Linked DNA regions of Homo sapiens. The protein of the gene in region 4 interacts with the protein of the main gene of each other region in a biochemical or structural test. Each region holds a gene or a part of one and is shown on either strand. Other genes may lie near its edges.

Region 1 (7,025 bases), on a different chromosome or scaffold from region 4:
TTCTACTAAAGAAAAAAGCATTTAAAAAAATTAATGTGCATGTAGAATTTTACATGCAAGGAAACTAGTTCTGAATACACTTAGAAGAGTCATTACCTTTGTCAAGTACTCCTTCATGACCTGGATGAAATAGGGCATGGCAAAATCCATGATATTGTGCCTCCATGCAGTTTCTAGGACGACATCTGGCCTTAAAAGATCGTAACAGGTAAACAGACAAGCTCCAAAGCACTCTCTTTTTTCTTCCTGCAAAAACCACTGCAGGAGTTCTTCAGCCAATTCAGTATCTTTAGATTCAGAAGCATACTGCATTGCATCCTATTCAAAGAAATAGTGAAAGTCAAAAACATTAGACCCCACATACTGAACTAGTAAACCAAGAAAAACAATGGAAACTTTCCAATATAAATCTGGTTTTGCAAGGGGAAAAAAGCCTCCTAGTTGTATCATTTAAATTAAAATTTTCAAAGAAGAGATAAGCTAAAAGCTTTTTTTTCCCCAGACAAGTTTGACCTTAACATAAGAGAGCCCCTAGAATCAAGAAATCCATTAACTTAAATTGCCTTAAAGTCAGCTCTCATATTCACAAAACCAATACTTTTATTTATAGATTATAATCACTTGTAACACCATTTTAGGCCTGGTTTAAAACAGCCCCTGCCCCGCAACTTTATCAACCTTGTAAAGGCTGTCTTTCTTGCACAGCTCTACACTCTGTTTCCAGCGATTGTTGCCTTTGAAGAGATAAGCAGCAATTCTCCTGAACTCAATGAGTTCATGTTTTTCCAAACGCTGAGCAAGCGAGATATTGTCAAAGTTGTCATAAGCATCTATTGATGTTCGCAGAGCCTTAAAAAAAAAAAGCCATCCAAATGCCAGATCAGTATTTTGTTTAACATTATATTCCGTTCTCAATCAATGAGCCCCTTAGATGGTAACATGTAATATGACACCTAGATTCAAGCATCAAAAGGTATGATTTTTCATTTTACCTAAAGATACCATTTTCTCCAAGATTTTCACTATCAAGGACTAACATATGGCTATGAAATGGACAATATTTCTAATTTGGAGGGCAAGATTTTTTTCTTTTTTTTTGAGATGGAGTCTCCCTCTGTTGCCCAGGCTGGAGTGCAGTGGTGATGCAATCTGGGCTCACTGCAACCTGCCTCTAGGGTTCAAGCGATTCTCCGGCCTCAGCCTCCCGAGTAGCTGCTACTACAGGCACGTGCCACCACAACCGGCTAATTTTTTTGGTATTTTAGTAGAGACGGGGTTTCATTGTGTTAGCCAGGATGGTCTCGATCTCCTGACCTCGTGATCCGCCTGCCTTGGCCTCCCAAAGTGCTGGGATTACAGGCGTGAGTCACCACGCCTGGCATGGAGGGCAAGATTCTGTGCTCTAGAGAAACTTCTGATAAAACTCAGCATGGCAGCAGTACAGATCTGCATGCGCTGAGCCTCAAAGAAAATGAAGAGAGAGAAAAAAAGGCAAGTAGCTTAAGCTTAACTCTACTTCACTTTTGCTTGTGAAATCCTTCATAAGAGAAAGTTTATACAAACACTAATAAAACAGTAGGCAAGAAAAATGGTGAATAAATATAGTTAATACCAAATAAATTTTATGAATTAGTTAAGTGGTCAAAGACATTTTTGACTCTACCTACAATCTAGATGTTAGAGATAAAGTAATCATATCATTTTTTTCAAAAGCAGTATCTTATACAAGATCTGAGCAAAATTCTGAAAACTTGGCACTTAATTAGAAGATTTATCAATCCTGAAATCTTACTAAATTTAGATCCTAGGTATGCAAGCACCTACTGTTTACAATCCTAAAGGATAATGGCTTTTTTAAAAAATGGGAAAACATAACTTTATGAGTCTTGAGATTATGTGCAAGAATCAAAAGGTTTTACCTGATAATCTTCTTCTGTAATAAAAAGATTGTTCAATGATTCATTCACAGATTTGTTGTTATGGTTCTGAACTGAACGCAAATACGGTTTCACCAGTGGTAGCTGTTTAACCTTTAAAATAAAGAGTTTGTTACAAATATAGCACATTATTGAAGTCCCAGGGACAAAAGTTATCGAAGTATGTCCTAATTCCTTGCTATGAAGCTTTGGTTTAAAATTATTACTTTACCTTGCTGAAATAATTGACTGCACGAGTGTGATCCAACCGTGGAGACAGCACCATCAGCAAATCATTTAACAACAGAGGCTTGAATTCTAAGTAGAACTGTATTGCTCTGTAGTATAGTTCCACATTGGCAACCTACAATGGGAAAATCCATACATAAGTCAGTTACTTCCTAATGAGCTTTCTCCTTCTGAATCCTTTATCTTCTGAAGAAAGTACACACCTTGGTAATGATATCTTTGAATTGCCCTTCTTTCCAGGCATCAGTTGGATGATTCATCATGGTAATTATGGCATTATCATATTCTTCATACTTGTCATACAAAAACACCAGTTCTGCCCAAAGATGAGCTTGTTCTGCAGCTCTTAGCACCTGCATAAGAAAGACTTAATTGCTTTAGATATGAGTCTAGCTAACAGCCTTAAAAAGAATAAGATATTTTGAAGCATTAGTTTTAACTACACAGTTGCTTCACTGTGTTACAATGACTGGTTACCTTGGGAATATTCACTCTAGACCAGAACAGCTCCAGGTGCTCCCTCATTTTCTGAGGCTTAAATTTAGAGTATAGAATAGCTAATTCAGTAAACATTCCCATGTGAGCTCGCTCAAGTCCCAGTGCTGCTTCCAACATGGTGATCAGCTCTTCAAAATAGCCACGATCCTGAACAAGAGAAATGTGCAGTTAAAGATAAGAATATCTATGGTAAAAGATCTCAGGTCATATAAAAGTCTCGTTAATACCTGATAGTAGTTGATAAGTTCTTCTAATTCATCTGCATGTACAACAATATGAAGTCCACACATCTGAGCAAGACGGAATTCTTTCCCATCTACACAGGCGAAGCAGACCTAGAATAAACATTTCCTTTCTGTGAACTCAAATGTAAAACATGGCTAGTTATTTAAACTAATGTTTAAATAGCGTTTCTTTAATTCTTCACTCAAACTTGGGTTTAGATTACCTCTTTCCATGTTCGAGTACTGTTAGCTTTCCTAGCCCCATCAACAGCTGCCTGATATTCACCCAGGTGAACCAGGGTAGATGCCAAACGTCCAAAATTGGAAACATTATTGTACAACAACTTAGCAGCATCATACATTTTTTCATCATAACAACGGTCACCAACCTGGAAAAAAAAAGGTAACCCACATTCAGCAAGATATTAGTGTGAGCTTAATCCTCTTTTCAAATTGATATCTTCACAATGAGAAAGAATTTGTTTTCCTATAGATTTTTCCTTGGAATTCTTCAGTTATGATGTTTTGATCCTACCAAGCTAATCAAGTAGCCCAACTAGTTTTTCTTAAATCTGAAAAGGAAACCCACTTGTTGGATATGAGCATTATTTGGTCCATTGATAAATTCTTCTAACTCTGCAAGGCGGTTTGTTTTAGCCAGTGCGAATATCAGTTCTGTCTCCACATAGGACTCTCGAGCCTTCTTACGGGCCATCTGCAAGTACTTCACCAGTTCTTCCCAGTTTCCTAAGTATAGAAAAAGAAAAAATATATCCAAACACTAACATCCTAGTTTATCTTTCACCCAAGTAAATGAAAATTGCATTCATTTCCTTTTCAAGGAAACATGGATAATGACAAATGTAAACCGTGCAATATTTCACTTCTGTATTATCACGGACCAAATGAATAGATGAATTCTTTTTCCTTAAAGTTTTAAGATTAGAGCACTATCAGGATTTTATGAGACTTCAAAAACAGAAGATTCATCTTCCCCACTTGTAAGTTTTGTGAACTTACAAATTCACAAAATACAGCCTCTTTTTATCTGGACTAAGATGGAGCACTAAAAGAAACCATGCAGTATCCAACTCTTCTAAAATTCAGAATAGACAGATATCTTAATGCTTAGCTTAATCATTTTATGAGGTTTCAATACATAAGGTAAGAAGTCATACCACTAGTATTGGCAGCCTGAACAACTTCCATGTAGGAGGAAGGATCATCTGCTTTGATATAAGAATCAATGGCTTCTTTCACCATTCCTTTCTGCAACTGGGCTTTTGCAAGTTGACTCCAGACCGCAGGTTCATTGCAACGTTCAGCAAACTCATATGCCCGATCCAAGTTTCCAATATGCTCAATTAAGACCTAAGTATCCAAGTTTGAAATTAGGGTTAGAGTAAAATCAATCCTACCCAAAGCAATTACATTTAAGCTGTTAGTATTTTATTGCTGCTCTATTGCCGTAGCAACCAATTAGGCCCACCCTCATAGCACAGTGTTTAGTAATTCAACTTAGGTAATCTGAAGATTTACCTGAACTGCTGAAGTATTGACATCAAATTTCCGGAAAATGGCAAATGCTTCTTCAAACAGCTCATTGCTGATGGCGATATTGGCAATATCTGGGGCATCATAATTATCCAGGCGGTTAATATACTCCATAACACGTGTACGGTCAGCCTTAATTGCAGTGAGGATAAGGAGGTTTTGCAGATTCCTTTAAGAAAAAAAAGAATATTTTAAATGCAATATTTTAAGTTTATCCGACATAAAAAATAACCACTGTGACTAACGGAGAGGTTTTTGTCTCAAGAGGTAGGGTAGGGGGGAGGATATTAGAAGAGTGAGAATTCAGGCAACTTTCTCTGATCTTTTTGTTCCTTCCCAAAACTGATGGGCCATAATTTATTAAAGACTGACTATAAATAGCCAATGGATCCCTCTGAAAGCATACCTGTGTTCACTGAATACAGAGTTATCAAGGACAATTTTCTCCAGCAGTTCAATGAGTTCATTAGGAAGGTCTGCAGTCATGAAAGCCTTTACAGTTACTGACACTTCTTCAGGGTCCTGAGTCTCAGACAAAGCTGTTTGTACAACCTACAGAGGATATATGGGACATAAGTACTGAGAATCAAGTTGGTTTTAAAAAAGCGTAAGTTGGCCTCTCATTAGAAAACTTGAAATAGGCAGAAAAGAATGAAGTAGGAAAAAGACCTTTAAATTTACATAGAGAGGTCTTTCTACACAAATCTATACAATATGTATAATTGTGTTGAAAAATTACTCTAATTATATAATTTCTATCTTTTCCCTGATTAAAACATTATCCAGGCTAGCAATCATCATTATCACTTTAATGGCTACACATAATTCAAAATTCAGCTACACAGATGTGGAATTAAAATATCGGTAATTCGTCTGGTTTTGGCTATTTGCTTGGTTTTCTAGATGCTGCAATGATTTCCAACCATCGCCCCCACCCCCACAACCTTCCCCTAGGAAGCTTTGTAACTACTTGGGAATGTTGCTTAGAAGTGCTTCCTAGGAAAGGAATGAAATATTAATAGCCTTCAACCTATTCGTTTCCAAAATATTTTATTTATACTTATCTCAGGAGAATTTAAGACTCATTATAACAACTCTTCTATTTTTAGAACTTTTAAAATATGTTGTCTATTTTATTTAGGTATAAAACCCCATCTCATTTGCAGTTCTATACTTCTTATTAGTAAGATATAACACTGATGCACTTGGTCTTTTGTATTTTCTCTTATCCTTATATTTTTCTGACTTATTATCTTGAAGTTTCCAATCAATTTAGCCACTTAAGTGTTAATAATAGCAATCTTTAATGTTTAGTTTGTTATTTTCCTTTTAAACTATGATGAACCAAGAGAGTTTTATATAATTAAGTCAGGTCTTTTGGGATGTATTTTCTTTTTCTTTTTTCTTTTTGTTTTTTTGAGACAGTCTTGCTCTTATCACCCAGGCTGGAGTGCAATGGCGTGATCTCGGCTTACTGCAACCTCCACCTCCCGGGTTCAAGCGATTTTCCTGCCGAGTAGCTGGGATTACATGCACCTGGCTAATTTTTGTATTTTTAGTAGAGATGGGGTTTTACTACGTTGGCCAGGCTGGTCTCGAACTCCTGACTTCAGGTGATCCACCCACCTCGGCCTCCCAAAGTGCTGGAATTACAGGCGTGAGCCACCGCACATGGCTTATTTTTCTTAATGTATGTTATATACATATTTATACTTATATAAATGTACATTCATTTGTATATAATGTATATAATCAATTTACATTCATTATATACAAATGAATGTAAATTGAATATATATAAATTTTAATTTTCTTCTACTTTGTATTGCTTTCTCTCATAGTTATATATGATCCATTTGAGTACATGATGAGGGAAAGGATTGTATTCATAGTTAAAAATGTATAATTTTTACTGACAGCCATAAACACATTTGCCAATGTTACCTGGTCAATTAGGGGTCTCCTGTAAGGATTGCTTTCCAGCAGCACGCTGCCCCACAATTCTGGATCCTTTCGACGTACCAGGTAGCGAGAAAGACTTTTGAAGAGGGAATTCTCATTGCAAACCTAAAGAAGATATGATAGATTAATTTCAAGGTAAAAAGTAAAGGACTTTTTATAGCATTTTAGAGGGTATTTCCTATCTTTTAAACTATGTTTATTGATAATCTTACTGATATTGGATCTAGTTTTGGACTTTGATTCATGTACCAGTAATATACTGTTTTAATTATATAGACTTTGTAATACACAGTTCAACATCTGGTAGGACTAGTCCACTTTTACAGTTTTCAGTGTTTTACTAGCTGTTCTTGTGTGTTTATTTTTCCATGCGTATATGCACATGTATGTACATAAATGAGCATATGTATGTACATAAATGTAACTAAGCCCTGACCACTGAAAGATCTTAGAAGCAAATACACTAAAGCTCAGATCTTGACTTCTAATATTTTCAGAAAGTAGGAGTCTTGCTCTGTTGTCAAGGTTGGAGAGTGCAGTGTTGCGATCATAGCTCACTGCAACATTGACCTCCTGGGCTCAAGTGATCCTCCTGCCTCAGCTTTCTGGGTAGCTTGAAACC
Region 2 (7,025 bases), on a different chromosome or scaffold from region 4:
TGGCCAGTTGTGACTTATGAGCCAGTTGGTATGGAAAGGTTCAACATGCTATCACTTAAAGAATTGAGCCTATTCCACTTTATACAGAAACAGAGGTTGAGTAAATAATCCCTAAGGCTCACTTTAACTCTTACCATACTATGGGCCTAGCACAGTGGTTTTTTTTTTTTTTTTTTTAATTCAACTGATTATTATTACTATTATTTTTGAGACAGTCTCACTCTGTTGCCCAGGCTAGAGGGCAGTGGTGTAACCACGCCTTACTGCAGCCTTGATCTCTGGGGCTCAAGCAATCCCCCCTCCACCTCAGCTTCCCGAGTAGCTGAGACTACAGGTATGCACCACCATACCCAGCTACTTTTTTTTTTTTTTTTTTTAATTTTCTGTAGGGACAGGGTCAACTATGTTGCCCATAGTCTTGAACTCCTGGGCTCAAGCAATCCTTCCACCTTGGCCTCCCAAAGTGGTCAGATTACAGGTGTGAGTCACCGTGCCCAGCATATTCAACAGACTTTACACTTAATGATAGGTTATTTCTAAATATATCCTTTAGGAAGAGGTCTATTTCAAACAAATATTCTGAGAATTAGAACTTAAACTGAAGTTTATGAAGCATTAACTTTACTGGCAACGTTTTCTTTCTAAAGCTGAGAGATGGATACATGGTGGGTATTACTGGTTACAGCTTTAGAGTGCATGGAAATATTTCCTATTAAGCTCCAATTTTAATTGTAGCAATGATAAAATGTCCACTAAGTGAAGAAATGGTTCCACAGAAGATTATGCTCACCCTCACAGCTGTACAAGCTAACTTGCAAGTAACAGAAGACTCATCCTTCAGTGTTTTCCGCAGCAAAGGAATGCAATCCGCCAAAGAAAATGTATTTCCTAACCAGAAGAACAAGCAACAAACATCATCATCTAAACTTAAACCTTAGTAAGCATAACTAGAAAAAACACAGCTGAAAAACTGGCCGTTACCTGTGAGGGTTCTAATGGTGCCCATCCAATCTCCCACGTGGAAGCGGGACCTGCTGAGGATGGAGCAGATGAGGGTCCCACAGAGAATGGCAGTGGCTCCTCGAACCTGTGGGTCTCCATGATCGATGTAGTTCAAGATGTCTGAGACATACTGTTCCTCTGTGGAGATAAATTGCTCAGCCATGGAACAATTCCCTACTATCAACTTTCTAACTCGAAACAAAAGCTTAATTCTCAGGAAAGAGAAAAAGAGGTGTGAAGAGAAGATCCAAATTCAGAAATGACTTCACTATAATAACCCTAAGTGATTAAAAAAAAAAAAGTTTCAGGATTTAAGAATTAGAGATTCATCATATTGCCAATATGTCCTCAATACCACAGACTTTCTGGATTATAATTCTAGGTTGTCAGATAATAAATCTGATTAAAATTCCAGATTCCACTTAAAAAAGATTAGAAAAAACCCTATTACACACTTACCTCATATAAATTCAAAAACACAAGTGTACCCTCTCACCCAAAGAAAAAGAGAGAACGAGAAGGCTCCATAGTAAGCATGGGCGCGATGGAGACTTGGGTCCACTGCTGCCTCAGCCAGTCCTGGTTCCCACTCACCCTGAGTGTGAATGCCTGGCCTGGCTGAGTGCGACTCAGCGCCACTGCGACCAGGCACAATTTGTGCTTTAGGTTTAAATCCGATGTGTATATATGTTGGCTCTTACGTGCTGAGGTTTCTACTTTTCTCCTCTATGGGTTTCATCTAAAGGGAACCCATGAAACAAAGAACTTCACTATTCATGTGTTTTCTGAAGAGCTACAACGCAGGTCAAATATCCCAAATGAACTCAAAACACTTACTGCTCTAAAACTAAAATAGTCAATACTGAAATAGTTTTTACAATAATGATTAAATCTGAGAAAATAAGATGTGAACTTTTAACATACCAGGGTATTCCGTGGTGTCAAGAGGAACTTTATAGAGTTTGCTGAAGAAAGATTCCGGGTGGAGGGCCACAGCTGCTCCCACACAGCTGAGGGCCAGGGCCTTCACGCTGACCCTCACATCCCTGTCCGGAACCAGCACTGCCAAGAAATCACCCAAGCCACCTTCAGCCTCAAACAACAGATTGTTTTCAAATGAACAAAACCAGACCCAATAACCTACCTGCTCCCATCATTTCCTCCCTCCCCTCGGCTAGTGAAAACCAAACTCATCCTCAGATTCTACTTCCTCTGCTGCACGCAAGGCAAAAACAGGCCACCAAGCTGACCTCTGAAACCTAGTTATTTCCTTCAACTGTGCACATCCCCTTTTGTACTCACCATTTTTTCCCCCTGTTAGCAAAAACGAAGCAGATAAAAGGCGGACACAATGGACAAGAGGTGCAGAGTCATCATCAGTGGACTGTCCAATGTCACCTTTGATGCGGCAAGGCTAGAAAGGAGACAATGACACTTGTTTGTCTCATACTCAACAATACATTCATGCATTAGTTCATTCAACAGATAGTTCCAGAGCAGCACTTAAGCCAGGTGCTGGGGATAAAGAGATGCCCTGGTTTGTGCCCATATGCACACCTGACCTCACAGAGACCATGGCCAAGCAGAAACAGACAAGTCAGAGGCAGCAGGACACAGGGTCACAGGGCTGTGGCAGGGGATAAATGCAGCATGCAGGGAGGGTGGGCGTGGTAAGAAGGCAGTTGACACTAGGCATTCAGGAACGGCTGCTGCAGAAGCAAAGCATGAAAGGTCTTCTACAGGACAAGCAGAAGCTACTTGGGGAAAGGCAACAGCCTGGGGAAGCCCAAATCTAAGAGGAAGTGGGCCTGGTAGATAGGGAGATGCCAAAGGCTATAATTCTGATTGATGGGACGAACTGTGAAACGCTATTCCTTGTCCTTGAGGAATTAAAAGTGAAGACAGTTACATTTACATGTAAAAAGATAATATGAAGAGAGACTTTTAGAACAGTTCAGTAGAACCAAAACAAGAAACGTTGCAGGCCATACGCAACCATCAAATGAATGATCCAAGAAATCAGACAAGGAAACATTCAGTACAGAATAGATTTGTCTGGGGCACACTCTCAAAGGAGGCAGAACTCAGGCAATTCTCAAGGCTGTGGGTAGTACCTGGAAAGGCAGAAAACAACAGGCCTGGGAAGAGCTGGTATTTAAAGGGGAAATTTAAAGGCCCAGGGATGGGAAAGCAATAAAGTAGACAGTAGCCAGGGCGATTTTAAATCCTCACACAAGCTCAGAAACACCAAGTCGTCTCAAGCCTATGTCCCTCACCTTGTTTTCTTGATCACCCGGTTCAGTAGCTTCATCTCTCAACACAAATTTATCAACACTGCTGTCAGAAGGCTGCCTGCAGTGACTCATGTTTTTCAATAAATGTGCCTGTTGAAGGGCTTTAAAAACAGAGAAATCAAGATTAAGTGACAAATTTCCACTTAAAATACAATTATACATTTATGCTAAGATAACTCAAAAGTATAAGATTTAGATCAAGAAAAAGTATGATTATTCCTCAATTGGTCATTTTCATCAGCTATTCAGAACTCAGAAAACAGTATCAAAGGACTTCTTCTTGGAAGCAAAGATATAATTAAGATGTCCAGGTCTGAATACAAACCACTTTGTAGCGCATCACCTGTAGTCCACATACCCATGGAAGAGTTCCTGAAGGCCTCCGAGGCTTCATCAGGAAGAATACCTGTGGCTTCCTCATCTTCATCCTGGGGCTGTCCAATCTGCAGGCCCAAATACTGGTTGTCGGTACCGTCTAACACCTAAACGGTTCAAGGGGGGCTGTGAGAATTTTGAAGTGTGATCACCAAGAGACAAGCCCTCCAACATGGAAGTGCAATGAGGAAAGAGCACATTTTACACACAGAACACAAATGTACTCATCTGTCATTTATTTCAAGGCACAGAAATGCACGCATGGAAACTGCTAAGAGCTTACTGATCACTCATTCCCACTACATTATGAAAAGCTCTATTAGCTCTAAAAACTCCAAAAAAATTCCAATGTGGACATTTCTTTTTAATATGAAAAAGAAAAAACCCATACAAAAATATTTGTCTTCACAAACAAATTTTACAGCAAGTTGGAAATATGAGGACAAAGCTTTTCGACAAAAACCTAACAATATAACAGGTTATCTCCTAAATTGCAAAGACTAAATCTACTAAATTTAGGGTATGGTATTTCATATGTTTAGCCATCAGCTTGGGGCATGATTCCACATCACAAGATGTTTCATGTCCACTTGAAATGTCCTGTGTAATTTACCTAAAAAAACTGAACAATGGACTACCAGCAAATTATTACCAAAATACTATTTTATTAAGTTTGTTAACTACTATACTATTAAGTAAAACACTCAATGATATGAATGTTTTAAATTAAAATTGGAATGTAAAAGCAACTCCATTTCTGGGTATTTAGCCAAAAAAATGGAAAGCAGAGTCTCCAGGAGCTATCTGTACACCCACGTTCATAACAGCATGATTCACAATGGCTAAAACATGAAGCAATACAAGTGTCCATGGACAGAGGAATGGAAAAGCAAAATGTGGCCTATCCATACAATGGAATAGTATTTGGCCTGAAACATTAGGAAGTTCTAACATAGGCTACAACATGCATGAGCTTTGGGGACATTATGCTAAGTAAAACAAATACTGTGTGACTCCTAAAGTATATGAGAACCCAAAGTAGTCAAATTCAGAAGACAGAAAGAAGAATCGTGGTTGCCAGGGACTTGGCGGGAAAGGAGGAATAGAGTTCAATGGGAACAGAGCTTCAGTGTTACATGATCAAAAGGTTACAGAGATGGGTGGTAGCAATGATTCCATGACATTATTTAAATGTATTTAATACCAGCGAACTGTATACGCAAAAAATGGTTAAGAACATAAATTTTATGTTACACATATTTAACCACAGTTTTTAAAACTGAAAATAAAATGGAGTATAAAACTCAACATGGACTTGTAGCAAACATTATTAGACTATCCATGAGGGTTTTTTGTCCACTAACTTAGAGATGAGAAGTGCTTAAACCTATGCCGCTATCAAATGGGAAATGTTGTAAAAGTTTTTTGAAAAGTCAAAAGTTCTTAAAATAATGCACAGTATTAATCACATTTCATTAAGACCACAGATCTGTTTATAATAGGCTCCTTAAGGATTTTTAAAAATAATTATTTAACCAGGGCCCAACAAGGCCTTAAAAAATGTAAAATGCACTCAATTTTAGCAGAGTTCATATAATCAACTATTCCAATTTTTTACCTCAGTGTTCAACACAAAAGACACTAAGTTGTTTCCTTCAGTGAAGGTATCAGATGAGGTCAAGCTCTCCATTAATGATCTAAGCTGCGCTGTCAATAGGGGTATTAGATAACAAGAGAACAAGCAGGAGGGTTCAGGTCTAGGTCTCCAGGGAAGAACTCAAAAGATGGCAGGTGGCAGGGCCGGGCATGGTGGCTCACAACTATAATCCCAATACTTTAGGAGGCCAAGGTGGGTGGATCATCTAAGGTCAGGAGTTTGAGACCAGCCTGGCCAACATGGTGAAACCCTGTCTCTACTGAAAATACAAACATTAGCTGAGTGTGGTGGTGCCCACCTGTAATCCCACCTACTCAGGAGGCTGAGGCGGGAGAATCGCTCGAGCCTGGGAGGCAGAAGTTGCAGTGGGCTGAGAACGAGCCACTGCACTTTATTTTTTTATTTTTTTTGAAATGGAGTCTTGCTCTGTTGCCCGGGCTGGAGTGCAGTGTCACGATCTCGGCTCATTGCAACCTCTGCCTCCCAGGCTCAAGCAATTCTCCTGCCTCAGCCTCCCTAACAGCTGGGACTACAGACATGTGCCACCACGCCCAACTAATTTTTGTATTTTTAGTAGAGACAGGGTTTCACCATGTTGGCCAGGCTGGTCTCGAACTCCTGACCTCAAGTGATCCGCCTGCCTCAGTCTCCCAAAGTGCTGGGATTACAGGCATGAGCCCCTGTGCCCGGCCTCCACTGCACTATGGAGTGAGACTCTGTCTCAAATAAAAAATAAAAAAAAAGATGTCAGGCCCCTCTGCCCACTTACAATTTCAGAACTGTCTGAAGGGGTAACAGCTGAATCAGGCCCTTCGGTGGTGGTCTGGGAGCTGTCGCTGATGGGCGACGAGGCCTGGGTCCCATCATTCAGGTCCATGGCAGGGTCAGATGGGACGGCGCTGACCTGGCTGGAGCTGTGGCTCAAGATATCCTCCTCATCCCCATCAGTGGCAGAGCTTGTCAAGTCACAGCTGGCCAGATCCACTGAGTCCGCCTGCAGTGTGTGCTGTGACCGTGGCTGTTCTGTGATGATGTCATGACCTGCTGACCCTGGAGTGGAAACCCCTGAAGAAGCAGCCAGCTCTCCACTGATCTCATCCTTCACTGAGGCTGAAGACAGAGAAACACTCATTTGTCAAATGGCGAGAGAAAACATTCAATAGGGAATCACAGGCTTGCAAAATAACGAACAGTTCCACCGTTATCAAATGTTTCAGCTGCACAGCATCCTGAAGATGCTGAAATGCAGGACAGCAGTGCATCCTTCAAGCATCTCTCACACTGCCTCCCACTACAGTACCCACCTTATAAAATAAGGCTTATCAGAAGGTGATATTCTCAAATGCTGTTTCACTGCAAAAACCGAAGTTCAAGTTCTTAACCGACTACTCCAAGCCTTAGCTGGAGCAATATATAAAGACATTTGTAATTAAGGGGCAGCCTAGTCAGGGGCGCAAAGCTAGGCGGTCACAGACACGCAGGCCCTCTAAGCAAGCAGTGGTCAGAAACAACTGTCAACTCATCTCTCTGGGGTGGGCTTGCCTTCTTCCAAGCCACATTCAAGATCTCGACTCCAGTCCTATTCTCCTGGAAGATAAACCTGTAACACATTTTCCTAGTTGACTTTCTAAATTACCATTTAAAAACAAAAAAGGCTATATAAAAATTATGGCAAAAAGGTCGACATGAAGCTGTTG
Region 3 (7,025 bases), on a different chromosome or scaffold from region 4:
TGTGCTGACACTGGGCTCAGTTGCCCCTGGGGAAAGAGGTATCTGGTGTAGGCCTGTGCTGGAGCCACAGGGAGCCCCTCCTCTCTGGCTGGATCTGTGGCCCTGGGTGATCTGGATGATGGACACTTTGTTTCCATTCATCAGCCTTGGGTAGGTTTCCATTTTCACACCCAGTTTTCTGAGCACCAGGCCTGGCTCTGACTTGCCTGTCAGTTCTGGGCAAGCCCATTTCCCCCGCTGGGCCTCGTAAGCTCACAGGAATGTTCTGGACCCTCTCTGCCCTTGTTCCAAAATGGGTCAGGCAGCTGAGGGAAGCAAACCCTCAGGGGTTTATCCCTGGGACGTGTCTCTGTCTCAGTCCTGTTCTGCTGGCCTGTGAGTGTGGACTCCCGGTGGTAGATGGGCAGTGGGTGGGTGGAGAGCACTGTGGGAACAGGTACTTGGAATGCTGTGTAGGTGTGTGTGGACTCTTAAGGAGGCCGAAACTGCATGTCCAGAGGAACACTCTCGAGGCTGAGGCAGAGAGACTTTCTGAAGGTCAGGGTAGACCCCAGGCAGCTGTGTGTAGATGTGGGGTCTGAGACTGGGGTTGGTCAGGGCGGAGTAGGGTGGTGCAAATTCTCGAGAAGGCCAAATGTACAGACCGGCATCACAGGGAATAGACCCTGGTAACGTGAGGCCCTGCTAGAGGAGACACCCCAGCAGAAGAAGCCCCTTTGCAGAAGATGCTGCCACTGAAATGCTATTGGTCCCACTGTGATTTAGGGGCCAGGACACCCATGCAGGAGAAGCCTTATCTGAAGGAATGGGAGTGACAGCTGACAGAGTTGGTTGGAATCAATCACTGGTTGACTCTGAAAGCAAAGTCAATTATGATTTATGTCACCCGGGGATTATTTCCATGGGATTAAGTACCCTTCCCTTGAGTCCCCAGGCCAAACACACTGTCGCTGCTCACAGCCCTGTCTGGCTGGTGAAGGGCTATTTGTCCATCTGCCTATTAACCTCATGTGGCCTCCATGGCTTTTTGCTAGGAGGCACAGCAGTTTCTGAGAGCCTTGCAGATAACAGCAGGCCTCAAAACAACAATTCAACTTCCATTTAGCCAATAGTTACTGCTCACCCATTCCGTGCTGGAGCCCTGAGGAGCTGAATAGGACACGGAGCCTGGTAAGGGGGTACACACGGACCCTGGGGGTCATGAGTAATTGCACAAGAGGGTGCAGGATACTGTATGATATCCTGGGATACCCCGGAAGTGAGACCTTCCGTAAGTGCCTAGGGAAGTAAAGGAAGCAGAGGAGGGCTTCCCAGAGGAGGTGACTTATGAGCTGGACCTTGGAGAATAAATGGAGCCAAAAAAGCATTCTTTTTTTTTTTTTTTTTTTGAGATGAGTCTCACTCTGTCGCCCAGGCTGGAGTGCAGTGGCGGGATCTCGGCTCACTGCAAGCTCCGCCTCCCGGGTTCACACCATTCTCCTGCCTCAGCCTCCCGAGTGGCTGGGACTACAGGCGCCTGCCACCACGCCTGGCTAATTTTTTGTATTTTTAGTAGAGACGGGGTTTCACCGTGTTAGCCAGGATGGTCTCGATCTCCTGACTTCGTGATCTGCCCACCTCAGCCTCCCAAAGTGCTGGGATTACAGGCATAAGCCACCACGCCCGGCCCAAAAAAGCATTCTTTAGAGAGGGAAGCAGGAAGAAAGCATGGGGATGAGGGTGGTGTGTTTGGAGAAGGAGGAAACCAGAATTTAGGGTTTGTGGGATGGGCTGGTGGGAAGTGAGTCAGGAATGGGCAGGGCCAGATTGTAGAGATCCTCATGTTCCAGGGTTAGATGTACTTATCTGGCAAATATTTATTGAGTCCTTGTTATGTTCCAGGGACTGTTGTAGGTGGGCCTCATCATGGATGAAACCAAGTCCACACCCTCATGGAGGGTCTGTTTGTTGGGGGAAGACAGATAATAAACACATACACAAATAAACACAGCAGGCTGTAGTAAGTGCGCTTAATACTGCAGGAGGAATAGGAAGGGGTGCCCAAGGGGTGGATGGGGGTGTGGTCAGGGAGGCCTTTAATTAGGCAGCATTTGAGCAGAAGCTGAAGGGAGTGAGGGAGCAGCCTTCCAGGCAGAGGGAACAGCACCTGCAAAGTCCCCAAGGCAGGAGTAGGCGCTATAGGCCACTGTGGTCCATGGGAAGTGGATTTCTTTGGAGTTTGTTTTCATGACATTTTGAGTCAGAGGAGAGGCACAGGTAAGTGCATGTTTTACAGACTGTCAGCCCTGGCAATTGGTTTGAAAGAGGGATGGGAGAGGCTGGAGTCAAGGGGGCCTGTGAATGGGCAAAAGCCATGCAGTCGTTGTCTTTCTTTCATGCATGTATTTACTTGTTTATTCAACAAATAATTATTGAGCACCTGCAAAGTCACAGGTGCATGCAAGTCTCTGGGAAAGACACAGGAGAAGAGAAAGAGACACAGTTATGTCTTCCCAGGTGTTTGCCCCTAGCGGGCAAAGCAGTTGTGCAGGTGCAAGGTGGTGAGGTCCTGGGCTGGGGCTGAGCTGCGGGAGAGAGTGGAGGGCAACTGTGAATGTCAGTGTTGTAGCAGAAGCCCCAGGAATTTGTGACTAATCAAATGTCAAGGAAAGGGACAGGGAGGAGTCACTGCTGAGGGCAAACTTAATTCCTTCTGGGAGGGGCACAAAGAGAAAAAATATGCCAGGTGCTTCTGGTGGGAACTGCAACTCCTGCTCACCCAGGAGGAGCAGTTGCTCAAGGCGCCTCAGGGACAGGCAGAGACGCGTAGGCCCCTCTCTTCCTTATCCAGTGTAGCCCCTGCCCTGAGCTTACAGCAGCTCAGCCTACTCACCAGGCACAGGCTTCACAGGTAATCTGGCCATTCCCAGCCATGGCCAGGGGTCAGTGATTTCAGGTAGGTAAGGAGCTATTACTGGCTGGGTGATTTTGAGCATGGCCTCTCTGAGCCTCAGCTTGAGTATCTGTAAAATGGGTTGACAACAATTTCATTGCAGGGCTGTGGTGAACATAAAATGTACTAATGGCTGTGAGAGGCTTTATAAACAGTCAGGGGTGGGATTGAGCCTAAGTTATATATATATCCATTATGTCTGTTTGCATGTGGGTCGATATATACATGGGTATACACAGAGTTTGGGTTGAGGGGCTAATGTAGGACCATTTCCTGCTTGCTATAAGCTAAACAGTGAGTAATGCTATCTCCTTGTTCTCTTTCCAGCTGGTTCTGAGGACATGGGGACCACAGTCAATGGAGATGTGTTTCAGGTAAGCAAGGCTCTGTCTCAGCAGTGGTAAGGACCAACAGCCCTGGTCTCAGTAACCTAAAGCCTCATTGTTGTAGGCTTACAGCTCCAGGTTCTCCTGTTCATTATGTCTGATGCATTGGGGTGGAAACATAGAGAAAGGTTTTTGGAATTTTTTTTGTCATGTAGAGGGCAGGGAAGAAGAATAAGGACCACTAGAGATCGAGATTGATGGGCAGTAGCCTCAGGTTGCCCATGGTGATGTCTGGTTTTGGGAGGGAGAGGTCAAGTGGCCCACAGCAGCATGAGATGAAGGCAGCGCAAGGCCTTCCCTCACCACTGACGGGAGGCAGAACCCAGGCCATCTCCACACACAGGGCGGGCCCTTTGATCCAGAGATTCCACTTCCAGAATTTTCCCAAAGGAAATAATTGGACAAGGCCACCCAGATTCTTTGCAGGGTTATTTATAATGGCAGACAATTTGGAGACAACCTAAGTGTCCAGCATCAGGGAACTGAATAGATAGATTAGAAAACCAGGCTGTTGTTAAAAAGGGCAATCAGGGCCGGGTGCAGTGGCTGACGCCTGTAATCCCAGCACTTTGGGAGGCTGAGGTGGGTGGATCACGTGAGGTCAGAGTTCAAGACCAGCCTGGCCAACATAGTGAAACCCCGTCTTTACTAAAAATACAGAAAATTAGCCAGTCATTGTGGCAGGTGCCTGTAATTCCAGCTACTCGGGAGGCTAAGGCAGGAGAATCACTTGAACCCAGAAGGTGGAGGTTGCAGTGAGCTGAGATTGTGCCATTGCTCTCCAGCCTGGGAGATGAGAGTGAAACTCTGTCTGAAAAAAAAAAAAAAAAAAAAAAAAGGGCAATCAGATCTTCCTGTATTGACGTGAAAAGATGTCCACAATATATTAAGTGGAAAAAGCAGCTTGCAGAATAATATACACAGTATGGTCCTTTTTTTTTTTTTTTTTTTCAATTTTAAAAATATGTTTGGGCTGGGCGTGGTGGCTCATGCCTGTAACCCTAGCACTTTGGGAGGCCAAGGCAGGTGGATCATGAGGTTGGAAGATTGAGACCATCCTGGCTAACACGGTGAAACCGCACCTCTACTAAAAATACAAAATTAGCTGGGTGTGGTGGCACAAGCCTATAATCCTAACTACTTGGGAGGCTGAGGCAGGAGAATAGCTTGAATCCGGGAGTGGGAGGTTGCGGTGAGCCGAGATCACGCCACTGCACTCCAGCCTGGGCAACAAGAGCAAAACTCTATCTCAAAAAAATAAAACTAAAGGTTTGCACTACATATCTGAAAGGATGTGTACCAGCTGTTAACAATGGTTAGCCCCAAGGGTGGGGTGGGATGGGGATAAGAAAGGGGCATTCACTTTCACTGGGTTGTTTACAAATTCTTTAAGTGTTTTTATCCTGCAAAAAACGAGGAAAACCCAGCCGGGCACGGCGGCTTACGCCTGTAATCCCAGATTTTGGGAGGCCAAAGTGAGAAGATCATGTGAATCCAGGAGTTTGAGACCAAACTGGGCAACATAGTAAGACCCCATTTCTGCAAAAAATGAAAAATTAGCTGGGGCAATAGTGTGTGCCTATAGTCCCAGCTACTCAGTAGTCTTAGGTGGGAGGATTACAGCTTGAGCTGGGGAGGTCCAGGCTGCAGTGACTATGATTACACTACTACACTTAGCCTGGGTGAGTCTTTTTTTTTTTTTTTTCCTGAGATGGAGTTTTGCTCTTATTGCCCAGGCTGGAGTGCAATGGCACGATCTCGGCTCCCTGCAGCCTCCGCCTCCTGAGTTCAAGTGATTCTCCTGCCTCAGCCTCCTGAGTAGCTGGGATTACAGGCACCCGCCACCACGCCTAGCTAATCTTTTGTATTTTTAGTAGAGATGGTGTTTCATCATGTTGGCCAGGCTGGTCTCGAACTCCTGACCTTCAAGTGATCCACCCACCTCGGCCTCCCAAAGTGCTGGGATTACAGGCACGAGCCACCGTGCCCGGCATGACAGTCTTAAAAAAAAAAAAAAGAGGAAAACCCTAGTAAGTGTATTTCTAGTTAAGACTGCTTCTGTCCGCACCCACCTAACTCTCTTCCCCTTGCATACACACAAATCCATTTTAGTACTCTGAGGGAACTCAGACCACAGAGGCATGCAATAGTCCTCACCTCGGCCCCCCAGCCAGATGCCTGGTGGGGCTAAACCTCCCCTCAGAGCCTTCATTCCCACTCAGACTGGGCCAAAGAGCCTTGATCCTGGGGTCTTTGGCTGTGGGATCTTCTGAGCCCCGCCCTGGAGGAGCTGGCTTCTTGAATCCTCTGGGGGAGTAAACAATACTTATTTTCTTATGTAAGAGGGATGGGCTGGTACCTTATGCAGGGAGACTGGCCAAGTCCTGTTTCTGGAAAATTACTCAACTATCAGCAAGCTGGAAAAGTCCATCTCTAGGACTTCAGCAGCTTCATGTCTAGTTGGGCCCGAGGGAGTCAAAGAATGAGGATTTGCTTCTGTGCAGCTTGGTAGATCATTAAGACTTAGGCTGCCCAGGCTCTCTGGCCACATTCAGAAGGACTTTGCTTGACCCCACAGTTCTGTGTCCTAAAGTGCACCTGGAGCTGGAGATATGCTTGGAACCACAGAAGTATGTAGAACATGGCCGGGCACAGTGGCTCACGCCTGTAATCCCAGCAGTGGGAGGCTGAGGTGGGTAGATCATTTGAGGTCAGGAGTTCAAGACCAGCCTGGCCAACATGGAGAAACCCTGTCTCTACTAAAAATACAAAAATTGGCTAGGCAGGGTAGTGGTTGCCTGTAATCCCAGCTACTCAGGAGGCTGAGGCAGGAGAACTGCTTGAACCCAGAGGCAGAGGTTGCAGTGAGCTGAGATCGCACACTGCACTCCAGCCTGGACGACAGAGCGAGACTTTGTCTCAAAAAAGAAAGTACCTAGAACACTCTGAGCTGGATCATTTACCTTTCCTAAAGATTAGCATCACGAAGCTCAGAGAGGTGAAGTGGTGAATGCAAAGTCACCCAGGAAATCAGCCACTTCTGGAGTGCACCCCATTTGACTTGGCCCCCCGCCTTCTCCCTCCCGACCTGTCAGCCGTGGGTGAGCTGTGGGTGAATCTGAGGAGCCCGGGGCCTCCTTTCCAATCTGAGTGAGAACTCTTATTCTCACTGTTACTAAGAATCACAGCAGGTGTGTTTATTTGTAAATCATATCACATCAGTGCCATCCGAGAATCCTTACAGGCAGGGCAGGGTCACAGATGAGCTGAATCACTCAGAAGCTTAGTGGCAAAGCCCCAGCTTGCCTACATCTCCTGGGCTCCGACCCGGTGTGCTTTGCATTACGACTCTGTTGCTGGAACTGGCTGGCCACAGCGCCTGGGTCACAGGTGGAAAGCCCCAGCTCTTTAGGATTGAGCATAGCAGGTCTGGCCTGCACCTGCAGGGGGAGGAGAAACCTTGGCCTGTGCACACCCAACACTTTCAAGGATCCCAGACAGAGCTTTTGTGCTTCCTTTCTTCCTCTTTTCTGCAGCCCGTGCACCACCAGCGGGTCCAGCTACAAACCCAGTTGCCAATACAGCCTAAGGACGAGCCTGCCCACAACTATTCCAGTTCCATTTGGCACAGCCAGGGGCAGGGACAGAAGGGCCCTGCAGGACTCCGCCTCCCCACCTCTGCACAGATCCTCTCTCCTTTCCCCTAA
Region 4 (7,322 bases):
AAGACCAGCCTGGCCAACATGGTGAAACCCTGTCTCTACTAAAAATACAAAAATTAGCAGGAATTGGTCATGGGCGCCTGTAATCCCAGCTACTCAGGAGGCTGAGTCAGGAGAATCGCTTGAACCTGGGAGGTGGAGGCTACAGTGAGCCGAGATCCCGCTACTGCACTCCAGCCTGAGCAACAGAGCAGGACTCTGTCTCAAATAAATAAATAAATAAATAAATAAATAAATAAATAAATAAATAAATATAAAAATAAATAAAAATATACAAAAGTTAGCCGGGCGTGGTGGTGGACACCTGTAATCCCAGCTACTTGGGAGGCTGAGGCAAGAGAATCACTCGAACACGGGAGGCGGAGGTTTCAGTGAGCCGAGATTGTGCCACTGCACTCCAGCCTGGGCAATAGAATGAGACCCTGTCGTGAAAAAACAAAAAAAGAGAGAGAGAGAGATTGGGGTATTCATCCCCCAGCTGCCTCCCTGCCACGCCACTTTCCACAGTGACTGTGGGTTTTCTACCTAAGGTCACAGCTCTGGGAAAATGCCTACTTTCCCATGACCAGAGCCCCCACCAGGTTACAGCACAGCTCCCTCCCCTTTTCTCTTTAGGTCTAGAGATGGTAACAGCTTCCTGGTGTTCCAGTAATATCTGGTGCTTTACCTGTCCCGGTTGATTCCCTTAACTCAGGTCACACCTTTGTACATAGTTCCTTCTCTTTCTTTTTCCTGAGAGAGGGTCTCGGTCTCTCAGGCTGGCGTGCAGGGGTGCAATCATAGCTCACTGCAGCCTCGACCTCCTGGGCTCAAGGGATCCTCCCGTCTCAGTCTCCTGAGGAGCTGGGATTACAGGTGTGCACCATCACACTTGGCTCACTGCAACCTCCACCTCCAGGGTTCAAGCGATTCTCGTGCCTCAGCCTCCCAAATAGCTGGGATTACAGGCGCGTGCCATCACACCCTGCTAATTTTTGTATTTTTAGTAAAGACGGGGTTTTGCCACGTTGCCCAGGCTGGTCTCGAACTCCTGGCCTCAAGTGAGCTGCCTGCCTTGGCCTCACAAAGTGCTGGGATTACAGGCATGAGCCACTGTGGCACGGCCACAAAAAATTTTTTAAAAATTAGCCAGACATGGATGGGCATGGTGGCTCATGCCTGTAATCCCAGCACTTTGGGAGGCTGAGGCGGGCAGATCACTTGAGGTCAGGAGTTCGAGACCAGCCTGGCCAACATGGTGGAACTCTGTCTGTACTAACAATACAAAAATTGGCCGGGCATGGTGGCATACACCTGTAATCCCAGCTACTTGGGAGGCTGAGGCAGGAGAATAACTTGAACCTGGGAGGCAGAGCCTGCAGTGAGCTGAGATTGCGACACTGCACTCCAGCCTGGGCAACAGAGCGAGAGTCTGTCTCTTAAAAAAAAAAAAGGAAGAAACTATGTACAAAGGTGTGACCTGAGTTAGGGGAATCAACCAGGACGGGTAAATTGGCAAAGCACCAGGATTTGCTGGAACAGCAGGAAGTCACTACACCCTATCTCTAAATAAATAAATGTTTTTTAAAAATTGAGATTTTTGTTTGTTTGTTTTTTGTTTTTTGCTTTTTGGAGATAGAGTTTCACTCTGTCATGCAGGCTGGAGTTCACTGGTGCGATCTCAGCTCACTGCAGCCTTCGCCTCCCAGGCTCAAGTGATTCTCCAGCCTCAGCTTCTCGAGTAGCTGGGATTACAGGCACATGCCACCACACCTGGCTACTTTTTTGTATTTTTTAGTAGAGACAGAATTTCACCATGTTGGCCAGGCTGATTTTGAACTCCTGGCCTCAAGTGATCTGCCCGCCTCGACCTCCCAAAGTGCTGGGATTACAGGTGTGAGCCACGGTGCCCGGCCAAGGTAATTTCCTCTTCCTCTGTCAGCGCCCCTACCGTGCTCCCACGCTCAGTTGTCATCTCCCTCTCCCTAGACATGAAAAATCAGGTGACATCTAATCTCTCCCAAAGCAACACAAGGGAGGGGGCACTCCCAAAGCCTCCCACAGAAACACAATTTAAGTAAAGGTGAAACCAGTCCAGTCCTTCCTATGCAAATGTAGCCTGAATGGCACCGCCATTGCCCATCCCCCAATCCCTGTGTCCAAGCCTTATTTGCGTAACCTCCCACGGGACAGAACTTCCTCCTCTCCCTTCTCTTCTAGGCCCTCATCATCTCTCATCTACGCTAGAGTCTCCCCACTGATTTCCTCCCTTCCATCAGGCCCCCATAATCCATCCCCACAATACAAGCTCCTCAGTGCACACATCTGAGCAAAAGTCTTCAGTGGCTCCTTAGTAACCGCAAATGCCCACCCCTCTTTCACTTCTCTATTGAATGTGTGAATTTTTACCAAACGCTCTTATTAAAAAAAATAAAAACAAAAACAAAAAAAAAACAGGCAGGGCAGGGTGGCTCACACCTGTAATCCCAGTGCTTTGGGAGGCTGAGGTGGTAGGATCATTTGAGCCCAGGAGATCATGACCAGCCTGGGCAATCCAGCAACATACCCCTCACTACAAAGAAATATGTATATATTTTTTTGAGACGGGGTCTCGCTCTGTCTCCCAGGCTGGAGTGCAGTGGCGCGATCTCTGCTCACTGCAACCTCTGCCTCCCTGGCTCAAGTAATCCTCCCGCCTTGTGAGTAGCTGGGACTACAGGCTTGCACCACCACGCCCAGCTAATTTTAAAATTTTTTGTACAGATGGAGTCTTGCTATGTTGCCCAGGCTGGTTTCAAAGTTCAGAGCTCAAACGATCCGCCTGCCTCAGCCTCCCAAAGCGCTGAGATTACAGGTGTAAGCCACCGCACCTGGCCAAATTTACAACACACACACACACACACACACACACACGAATCACCAAATTGTTAGGCCTAAAGGTGCCATTCATTACTCCGAGTTTCAAATAACTTTTAAAAAATACATCTATGCCGGGTGCTGTAGCTCATGTCTGTAATCACAGTACTTTGGGAGGCCAAGGTGGGAGGCTTGCTTGAGGCCACGAGTTCGAGACCAGTCTGGGCAACATAGAAAGACTCCATCTCTGCAAAAAAGATAGCCAGGCTTGGTGGCGTGCATCTGTAGTCCCAGCTACTCGAGAGGCCGAGGCAGGAAAATCGCTAGGACCCAGGAGCTCAAGGTCCCAGTGTGTTACGATCTGCACTCCAGCCTGGGCGACAGAGGGAGACTGACTCCAAATGAAACCAAAAAAAAAAAAAAAAACAAACAAAAACAAAAACAAAAACACACCTAAATTGGAGTTTAACGGAAAACTTTTAACTTTCTCCAGCACTCCTGCTAAGCATCACACTTCTCTCTGCTTGCTGGTACCCTGGCTGACGTCTGAGCAGGATGGGACGCGCGGCTCAGAGCCTAAGATAAACCGAAAGTGTCTACAGGGCTTTCTACCAACAAATAAGCTCTGACGGGTTCCTTTGATGAGGTTTGGGAGGCAGGTCCCGGGAGGTGCCCGCGGACTCAGCCCCGAACTCCGGGACCTGGGCTCTGCGATCCTTGCAGAGGGCATGGGCAGGGGCAGAATGGAGAAGTGCAGGACGGGGAAGCCTGGGAGCTGGGTGGGGGCGGCCACCCATTGAGCCGGATCCGGCCAGGCGCCCACGCTGCGCCCCGCCCGCGGGGCTGCGCTTTCCCGGGCTGCGGCCGCAGGGCTGGTCAGTCCGGCGCTCCCGGGTCCCAGGCCCGGAAGGAGCTAACGGGCTATTCGCAGGCGGGCTGGGATTCCCCCGGGGGAGGCCCCACTGCCCGGCCCGCGTCATCCCCGCCCATCTCCACGGGCCGTCGCGGGATAGCCCCCTGCAGGAGCGGGCAGGGTAGTGGGCGGCGCTTGGCGGAGGGCAGCACGCTCGGGGCGCGCGGGGACTGCGGCCGAGGGGAGGAGAGGGCGGTGCGCGGGCGGGGGCGGGGCGAGCGAGGGCATATCAGGGCAGCCCGCCCAGGCCACGCCCCATCCAGGCCTCGCCCCGTCCGCACCCCGCCCCGGCCCTGCCTAGAACGGCGGGACCACGGTGACTGACAGGACTCCAGACCAGTCACCACGCGCCTCGAGGCCCCGAGAGGCTAGTCGGGGCCGAGCCAGCGGAGGGGCTCCTGAAGGGGCGGGGGCGGGCGGGGAAGCCGTTCGGCGAGGGGCGGGGTCTCTGGAAGACTGGCAGAACTCACAGCCAATGGCAGGCGGGAGCCGTCCCGTTAGCGCCGGATCCCCGCGGGTAGGGCGGGGCGGGCGGCGCCGTGGGGATCCCGGGGCAGCCGAGGGCCCCTGACTCGGCTCCTCGCGGCGACATGGATCGGATGGCCAGCTCCATGAAGCAGGTGCCCAACCCACTGCCCAAGGTGCTGAGCCGGCGCGGGGTCGGCGCTGGGCTGGAGGCGGCGGAGCGCGAGAGCTTCGAGCGGACTCAGGTGAGGACGGGGGACCCCGGGGCATCCCTGGGGCACCCTGAGGGACGCGGTGTCCGGGAGGGGCTTTGAAGGGAGTAGGAGTCTTGCAGGCCCCAGTTGAAGACGGGGCGAGGGTGTAGTGAGCGGGGGCATTGACGTGCAGATCTGGGCGATCCCAGGAAGGTCGGGGACCCCAGGGTACCCCAGCTGGCCTGGGGAGAAGGGCAGAGGCGGGCTCGGAGGAGATGGCAGGATGCGTGGCCAAGAGGAGCCTGATCGGCTGGGTACCGGGCAGGAGTCCCAAGATGAGGTGAGAGGGGAAGGAACTGAAAAGGGGCGGAATGGAAGGGTTGCCCCTAAACAAGGGAAGCGCACGGGAGCCACTTGGAGGCTCAAGTGTGGGGGCGGAGAGTGGGGGCGCCGGGCTGGGAATGTGAAGGGTGAGGGGACCTCTCTTCCCCTCCGATCACTTCTTGGTTGCATTGACATCCCTTCCCACCCCCCACCCCTTAGCATCCCCCTTTCTCGATGCCTCTTGCTTGGCTCTGGCCAGCCCCAGCTGTCAGCTCTGAGGCCGGGCGGAAGGGGTCGGAGCAGGGAAAAGGAATGTAGGAAATGCAAAGTGTGGCCACTTTGTGGGAAAATTACTTTGGGGGCTAAAGTGGAGACCATGGTGCCCCTGAGCCCTGACTTGGGGTCTTGGTTTTATCCCCCAAGATGTGCCTGACAGCTAATAGGCAGACTGCCCTATTTGTCCTGCCTGGCCAGGGCTTGGGGCCAAAATTCCTCAGTGTCATCAACAAAAAGCCACAATCCATTTTTTTCTCCGAGTTTTTAATGCCTGGTGTATTGATTGGGCTGAATTAAGCTGACATGTTGATGGTGTTCATCAATTCATTTGTATGTAAAATCCATTTCAAAGAGTACAACGCTTCTTTTAATCCCAGTGCCAATGCTGGAGGGGCAGATTTCTTCTACACTCTTGTGCTCAGAGTGGAACCTTTGAAGATCCATTTGGGTCCCCCTCTCCAGAGGCTGGTCCCCTGATGTGTTATGCGAGGAATACTTCCCCCAAACACAGTTGGAGGGAAAGGGCTTTGGGATTTTAGTTAGAAAAGACAGTGAGAATCTGACTGAAGGTTCTGTATATGGAATCTTTCAAAGAATAGAGCTTTTGGCCGGGCGCGGTACCTCACACCTGTAATCCCAGCACTTTGGGAGGCCGAGGCGGGTGGATCACCTGACGTCAGGAGTTTGAGACCAGCCTGGCCAACATGGTGAAACCCTGTCTCTACTAAAAATACAAAAAATTAGCTGGGCGTGGTTGCAGACGCTTGTAATCCCAGCTACTTGGGAGGCTGAGGCCAGCAGAATTGCTTGAATCTGGGAGGTGAAGGTTGCAGTGAGCCGAGATGGCGCCACTGCACTCCAGCCTGGGCAACAAGAGCGAAACTCCGTCTCAAAATAATAATAATAAAAAAGAATAAAGCTTTTCACCCCCAGAGGACTTCATCCCCTCTTCTTATTCTGAAAACCTTTGGCCCCCCACCTGGGCAACATAGTGCGACCCTGTCTCTACAAAAAATAAAAAAATTAGGCTGGGTGCATTAGCTCACACCTGTAATCCCCGTACTTTGGGAGGCCAAGGTGGGAGGATCACTTGATCCCAGGAGTTCGATACCTGCCTAGACAACACACTGAGATCCCGCCTCTATTTTGAAAAAATTTTAAAATTATCCTCGTGTGGTGGCATACACCTATAGTCCCAGCTGTTTGAGAGGCTGAGGCATGAGGGTCACTTGAGCCAGGAGGCTGAGGCTGCAGTGGGCTATGATCGTGCCACTGCACTCCAGCCTGGGTGACAGAGTGAGACTCTATCTCTACAAAAAAGTGAAAAAAAGAAAGAAAACCGCGCGCAGGTGTGTCTGGATAGTGTGAAGCAGTGGGACCCTGTCTCTACAAAAAAAAAAAAGAAAAAGAAAAAAAGAAAGTGCCTCCATGCAGGTGTGTCTGGATGGTGTGAAGCAGGGAGTCTTCTCTACCTGGTTATCCTACCCCAGGAGGGAAGTGGGAAATGGTCATTTCACTTCTGCCTCCCAGGATCCAGCTAGGTTTGAGGCTTGTTCTCTGGTTTCATGGACCCGACCCCTGAAAAGAAGGAAGTTTTCCATTGGTCTTGGATGTTAGTGCCTCTGCTAGCTGCCTAGTTACATGAGGCTTCTTGCTCCATGAAACAGTGTGTATATTCCTTTTATTTTTATATTTTCATAGAGATGGGGGTCTCACTGTGTTGCCCGGACTGGTCTCAAACTCCTGGCGTCAAGTGATTCTTCTGCTTCTGCCTCCCAAAGTGCTGGGACTACAGGCATGAGCCATGGCACCCAGCCCTATTTTTTTTTTTAATAAATGAAATAAGAAAATAAATAGATATTATTTTTTAACAACCCGTTCCTTCTAGAGTCTCAAATAAGTAAAAACTAGAGCAATAGAGAAATATGCGTAAGACTTTGACCCATAATAGTGATAGAAATTAGGTTTGTGAAAGTTTCCACCCGTGAGTGGTATGTTTCCCTGCTATCCAGGGACGGCCCAACAGGAGAGTCTAGGTCAGTGTTTTCTGGTGTTTTACATTCTGTGGGACATTTGTGATTGGCCAGATTTGACCTGGGTGGGGTGGGTGGGGGTGAAGTAGAGTGGAGCAGAAAAAGAGAATTTTTCTGATGTTGAAACTCTTATTTTTAACTTTTTTTTTTTTTAAGACGGAGGTCTCACTGTGTTTTCCCAGGCTGGTCTTGAACTAGCCTCAAGCGATCTTCCCACCTCAGCCTCCCAAAGTGCTGGGATTTCAGGTGTGAGCCACTGCACCCAGCCTCTGGTGTTGAAACTCT

The links.
Region 1: the proteins of HIP1 (region 4) and CLTC form a complex in vitro, tested with the Homo sapiens proteins (3 studies listed by BioGRID).
Region 2: the proteins of HIP1 (region 4) and HTT form a complex in vitro, tested with the Homo sapiens proteins (2 studies listed by BioGRID).
Region 3: the proteins of HIP1 (region 4) and CLTB form a complex in vitro, tested with the Homo sapiens proteins (2 studies listed by BioGRID, with this or other methods).

What each region holds. Positions count from the first base shown.
Region 1 is NC_000017.11:59,678,880-59,685,904, reverse strand, and holds part of CLTC (clathrin heavy chain 1), read right to left. Parts: intron 6,509-7,025; coding exon 6,386-6,508; intron 4,994-6,385; coding exon 4,848-4,993; intron 4,611-4,847; coding exon 4,427-4,610; intron 4,259-4,426; coding exon 4,066-4,258; intron 3,635-4,065; coding exon 3,477-3,634; intron 3,277-3,476; coding exon 3,112-3,276; intron 2,999-3,111; coding exon 2,891-2,998; intron 2,811-2,890; coding exon 2,643-2,810; intron 2,519-2,642; coding exon 2,369-2,518; intron 2,281-2,368; coding exon 2,149-2,280; intron 2,031-2,148; coding exon 1,920-2,030; intron 850-1,919; coding exon 679-849; intron 319-678; coding exon 97-318; intron 1-96. UniProt on the Homo sapiens protein: Clathrin is the major protein of the polyhedral coat of coated pits and vesicles. Two different adapter protein complexes link the clathrin lattice either to the plasma membrane or to the trans-Golgi network.
Region 2 is NC_000004.12:3,126,677-3,133,701, reverse strand, and holds part of HTT (huntingtin), read right to left. Parts: intron 6,439-7,025; coding exon 6,098-6,438; intron 3,779-6,097; coding exon 3,655-3,778; intron 3,398-3,654; coding exon 3,279-3,397; intron 2,417-3,278; coding exon 2,305-2,416; intron 2,065-2,304; coding exon 1,927-2,064; intron 1,141-1,926; coding exon 982-1,140; intron 889-981; coding exon 791-888; intron 1-790.
Region 3 is NC_000005.10:176,406,538-176,413,562, reverse strand, and holds part of CLTB (clathrin light chain B), read left to right. Parts: intron 1-2,085; exon of another isoform or gene 2,086-2,256; intron 2,257-2,739; exon of another isoform or gene 2,740-2,935; intron 2,936-3,259; coding exon 3,260-3,306; intron 3,307-6,854; coding exon of another isoform or gene 6,855-7,025. UniProt on the Homo sapiens protein: Clathrin is the major protein of the polyhedral coat of coated pits and vesicles.
Region 4 is NC_000007.14:75,735,934-75,743,255, reverse strand, and holds the start of HIP1 (huntingtin-interacting protein 1), read left to right. Parts: upstream 1-4,314; 5' UTR 4,315-4,335; coding exon 4,336-4,455; intron 4,456-7,322. UniProt on the Homo sapiens protein: Plays a role in clathrin-mediated endocytosis and trafficking. Involved in regulating AMPA receptor trafficking in the central nervous system in an NMDA-dependent manner. Regulates presynaptic nerve terminal activity.